Regions from separate parts of the Homo sapiens genome. Here region 1 is linked to region 2. The links come from fine-mapping of genetic effects on gene expression. Tissue or cell type: whole blood. Region 2 holds a variant in brackets; the other region holds the start of a gene. All regions are shown on one strand. Distances are from middle to middle.

Region 1 (2,604 bases), 68 kb before region 2:
TTGAGCCCAGGAGTGTGAAGCCAGCCTGGGCAACATAGTGAGACCCTACCCCAAAAAAGGTAAAAAAAAAAAAAAAAAGGAATAATAAAAAAAATTGACTAGGGCTAATAAGTACGGGATAGACGAGAATAATATTTCTTTTTTTTTTTTTTTTGGGGACAGAGTCTCGCTCTGTCACTCAGGCAGGAGTGCAGTGGCGCAATCTCGGCTCACTGCAAGCTCTGCCTCCCGGGTTCACGCCATTCTTCTGTCTCAGCCTCCCGAGTAGCTGGAACTACAGGCGCCTGCCACCATGCCCGGCTAATTTTTTGTATTTTTAGGAGAGACGGGGTTTCACCGTGTTAGCCAGGATGGTCTCGATCTCCTGACCTCGTGATCCGCCTGCCTCGGCCTCCCAAAGTGCTGGGATTACAGGCGTGAGCCACCGCGCCCGGCCGAGAATATATTATATTTTTCTTGTTATTCATTCAACAAATAGGAACACAGTACCTACTCTGTTGCCACATCTATGCCAGCCCTGTTTCAGGGGTGTTGGGGGAGATGAAATCAATAAAATATGATGTCTACTTTCAGGGATGGATTTCATGCCCCAGGCAGCAGAGTAGGAAGAATGACTATAGTCTCAGTAGCTGCTGGTTGGAGCCTGCCATCACTTCAGATGGGGTTGTTCCCCAGAAGAGGCAACCCGCATACCTTCCCAGGTCCATCCTGGGCTGCCACCTGAGTTGCCTGTCTTCCTTCTGCCACCTCCACCCCTATCCCAGGCCTGCCACTGCTCATAGCAGATTTCCTATCAAAGGCTCTCCTGGCCTCCTCTCTTATCTGTGGCCCCCGCAGGGCACCCACTTTCAGAAACTCCCTGGAAGGCCCAGCACCTGCCTCTCTCCACCCCTGGATTTCTACCAGCTTGGCTGAGGCCTGGGGCTAGTGGGGAGAGCTTCTTGGCCTCTTCCCAGAGGCAAGGGAGGAGGAGGGAGGCTGGGAAAGCCGCTGGGGCTCAGTGTCGCAATTCCGGGCCGTGCTGGGACCTTTGCTCCACGAGGTGCCTATGGAGGGGAGGGAACACGATTCTGGAGGCTGCTGGGATTGGGGTGGGGGTTCCTGGGAGGCAGTCCTTTTGCAAGAGCTGCTAAGAGCGCTGGGTAAGGAGAGGAAGGGGAGAGACATGGAACTTGGCTGGTCTGCAGGGAAATGCCACTGTTTTGGCCGGGAGTAGGGGGCGGGAGTGGCGGGAGAGGGGGTGGCCGGCTGGGGAGGAGCCAGCCTGGTGGAGAAGCTGCCCTGTGGGCGGGGGTGAGGAGGGGAGGGCTGTGGTCACCAGGCAGGAAGGAGGGGTGGCCTGACCCCTCGGCAGTCCCTCCCCTCAGCCTTTCCCCAAATTGCTACTTCTCTGGGGCTCCAGGTCCTGCTTGTGCTCAGCTCCAGCTCACTGGCTGGCCACCGAGACTTCTGGACAGGAAACTGCACCATCCTCTTCTCCCAGCAAGGGGGCTCCAGAGACTGCCCACCCAGGAAGTCTGGTGGCCTGGGGATTTGGTGGGTCTGCTCCTTAGCAGTGGCCTGGGGCTCTGTGTGTGTATCTGGGGTGGGGTCGGGGAATGTCCTAAGGATCTGAGAAGGGGGTTTCTGGGGAGAAGTGAGGGGTGATGGTGATGGAAGCTTGGGACAGGAGCAGGACTCTGGGTCCCAGAATAACTCATGAGGGGCTCAGGGGAGGAGGTCCTCTATGTGAATTGGGGAGATTCTTGGAGACAGGTTTGTGCTGGGACCCTGGAAAGTGGCACGAGCGAGGTTCTCTAATAAGCAGCGTGTTTCACTGGGTGGAGTGAGCTGTCCTCAGTGTTGGAGTGAGGGGGAAGGGGCCCAAGAGAAGCAGGGCAGATGCACCCAAACATTCCCTGCTGGCCTGGAGGGGACTTTGGGGGAGAAAAGCCGGCACGGTGGCTGGGAGCCCAGACTTTGGAGTCAGAGGAGGGTTGGAGTCTTGACTCTACCGCCGCCTAACTGTGTGACCATAGTTACTTAATCTCTTTGAACCTCAGTTTGCTTATCTGTAAAATGAGTTTAAGAATAGTCCTGAGCCAGGAGCAGTAGCGTGCGCCCATAATCTCAGATACTCAGGAAGCTGAAACCTGATTGCTTCAGCCCAGTAGTTTGAGGCGATAGTGTCCTATTATTGCACCTGTGAATAGCACTGAGTTCCAGCCTGGGCAACATAGAGAGACCCCATCTCAAAAAAAAAATTAATAGTTTTGACCTCAGAGGGATATTATGAGGAAAGCACATAAAGCCTTATAACAGGCTGGGCGCAGTGGCTTACTCCAATAATCCCCACACTTTGGGAGGCCCAGGTGAGAGGATCACTTGAGCCCAGGAATTCCTAGACTAGCCTGGGCAAAATAGGGAGAACCTGTCTCTAAAAAACATAATAGTAATATAATAAAGCCTTAGTACAGGCTAATATATGGCAAGTAAATGTTAGCTGATATTGTTGATATTGATAAAAGGGAGGATCAGGTGGAGAAGGGAGCTGAGGCCAGAAAGGAGCCCAGTTCTAGAAGAGTATAATCTGGGTCCTTCCTGCAGGACAGTGCCTTGGTAATG
Region 2 (2,756 bases):
TGGCCGATCTCCTTGTGTCTTTCTGGTGTGCGTGCAGCTTGCGTGTGCGTGCGTGCGTGCCTGCGTGCTTGTGTGTAAGTAGCTTGTATCTGTCCTCTCTGGAGTGTGTTTATTTGCCTTTTTCTTCTGCGGATTCTTCTTCCTGTTCTTTTCCTTCCTCTGAGTGTTCCCACTCTGTCCCCTGCTCCACAGGCCCCATTCCCTTTCTTTTGATTGGGGAGCACTTGTGGATACATCTTTCCCTCATTGTAATTCCACCATAGGAGCTGACTTTTTTTTTTCTCTCTTGGTCTTTTAACACAGTGTTACCTTTTTCTCTCAGTGGACATTCCTTAAGCTAATTCCTTTCTGAGGCCAGCGCATCATCCCAGGTCCGTTCACAGCTCTGACTCCTCACACAAGTGCCTTCCCTCCTCTTTCCCTGATGTCCGGGTTCCTCTCCCTGAGGCTCTGAGCCAGACCCAAATGTGTGAAGCCCCACAGACCCTGGCCAGGCCGCAGACCCTCAGGGGAGGTGGATGCCTGACTGACGTGGCTGTCTCCCTCCCTCCGCTAGCCGTTGTAGCTCTCTTTCAGGAACGTAGCTGGGCAGCTTTGGTTTAACAGGAAATGGCTGCGCAGGCTGCCAGCAGCCCCTTAGTATATTTTCAATTTAGGACTTAGGGCAGTAGCCAACCCCAAAGACCTTAGGACCATCCCAGAGAGGGGTCTACCTAAGTGCTTTTCTGGACCACAAAGGTGTCAGTACTTCTTGGGGAGCAGACTTCTGACCACATTTTAGCGCCGTGGCCTCTGAAGATGAGATCTTGCTGAGCAACGCCCAGGTGCTCTGCCCTGTTCCTCGTCCTGCCCTTGGCATAGCCCCACTGGGCAGCCATCCAAGCCAGTCTGTGGTTGAAGGCTTGGCCCCTAGAAGATAGACTGCAGAGAAGGGGAGGAAAGCCCGGGTTCTCAATCTCACCTCACAGTTAGTAATGAGATAGCGACCTGCCCCCTATTCTGCCACACAGTGTTCAGTTGGAGTGGAGGAGGCAGCAGACCTCCTGGTGGAGCTGTGCAGTCTGGGGTAAATGGGAAAAGCACAGGCTTCGGTGTGAGGACATGCTTGGATTTGAAGCCCAGCTTCCACGTTCATGGGCAAAGAAACTTTCTGATCCATAGTTTCCTCATGTAGAAAA[TG/T]GGGGTAATACTATTTACTGTGTCACGTAGTAGGTGCAGAGATTAGAAATCGTATTTGTAAAACCCCAAGTAGGTGCTCAGCAAGTGGTAGCTGATATTATTATCACCACATACCTCTTGGGAGATCCTGGATCCTGTTTCAAGGAGGATACCAACACCTCCCACCCTGAGGACAGTCTGAGGGGAGCTTTGCGCCCGTGCCAGCCCTCTGCGCCGGAGGAGGATGCATGGAAGGGTAGAGACCTAATGGGCTGAGTGGGGACCCCTGGGGCACTGTGTCTTACAAGCACTGCCCTGGGCAGAGGGTACGGGCGGGCAGCCCAGGCCAGCAGCAGGGCCTTCGGGTTGGGTTTGACCATTCAAACTAACGCCTTCATTTCTCTCCCATGCTTTCTCCTCCGGCCAGGAGCGGAAGGTACATGCCCTTTCTGCTATCTTCGCTTCTTAGCGCTTTTGAGTTGTGTGCGTGTGGATTCTTCTGTCCTCTCTTTGGGAAATAGACTTTCTTTGTGTGGGTGGGGCTGTAGCTGGGAGAGTGTGCTGTGTGGGGCAGGGGTGGAGCCTGTGGGCCTTACCCCGGCCTCCCTCCCTCTCTTGCAGGTTTTCATAGAGCTGAATCACATTAAAAAGTGCAATACAGTTCGAGGCGTCTTTGTCCTGGAGGAATTTGGTAATTACACTATTTTGCTCTTAGGTCTGGACTCACATGGCAGTAACTCAAACCTCGGAGCTCCAGAGGAGGGTCTAGGGGCAGGGAGAAGAAGAACCTCTGTAGAGAAGTCAGGAGGAGCAGGAGTGACAAGGAAGAAAAGGGACCCCTGAGATGAGAGCCGGGATGTGGAAGGGAAAGATAGATAATGGATCGCAGAAGAGCAAATGGGGCCTCAGGTGGGTTTCGAGTTTAGAGGTGGTCCTGAAGCAGCTCAGTGAAGTAGCACCACCTCCCCGTGCTGGGCCAGCCAGTGGTCAGAAAGTTTGGGACACAGCAGACTGGCGACCCCCAAGCTCCACTATGTCCATGTCACCTGCTGCAATCTCTCTAGCAGCCCAGTGCGCTAGCCAGCCTCCCTGGCGCCGCTCTGGTCTCCACCTGGCCTCTGTGCCAGACAAAGGGGCACCGGGCGTCGCAGGCAGACTCACTTGAGGGACAGAGGAGTCTAGCGGGACAGCTGTAGCCGGAAGCTGGGAGCCAGCGCTAGGGAGTGGTGTAGTGGGTTCTCACCCTGGGGCTTTGAGTTCCTGCTGTGTTTGTGCTTCATTCTTTTGTGCCCCTCATCGCTGCTATGAAAACCTTCGTTCTCCAGCAGGTAAAGTGACCTCGGCTCGTGCTGCCTCTCCCCAGGTCTCTGCCTTGGGCCCTGCCCTGGGTGGGTAGCTCCCATCGAACCAGCTCCTCACACTGCCAGCTCGTCTCTTCCTTTCTCCCCTACCCTCTTTCTTCCTACCTTGCCTCCCCCTTCTCACCGGCTCACTGGACTTTCCTCCCCGTGTGTTCCCTTCTCTCTTCTGTCAGAGAGATACTTGGGGGAATCTTCCAACTCGGGAGAATGGCCTGGGGCTTCTTGCTCTACCTTTGA

Evidence for each region. PIP is the estimated chance that this variant, and not a neighbour inherited with it, causes the effect.
Region 1: NR1H3 starts here. The variant in region 2 is fine-mapped to the expression of NR1H3 in whole blood (TOPMed, PIP above 0.99).

What each region holds. Positions count from the first base shown.
Region 1 is chr11:47,256,594-47,259,197 of GRCh38, forward strand. NR1H3 (nuclear receptor subfamily 1 group H member 3) reads left to right here and starts at 1,403. Exons shown (of 10, transcript NM_005693.4): 1 at 1,403-1,536; 2 at 2,587-2,604.
Region 2 is chr11:47,324,959-47,327,714 of GRCh38, forward strand. It overlaps MADD (MAP kinase activating death domain), which reads left to right. Exons shown (of 37, transcript NM_001376571.1): 34 at 1,586-1,594; 35 at 1,780-1,849. Among named protein-coding and RNA genes, the nearest start is that of MYBPC3, 26 kb to the right of the region's middle. The variant TG/T (reference allele first, on the strand shown) is at 1,179.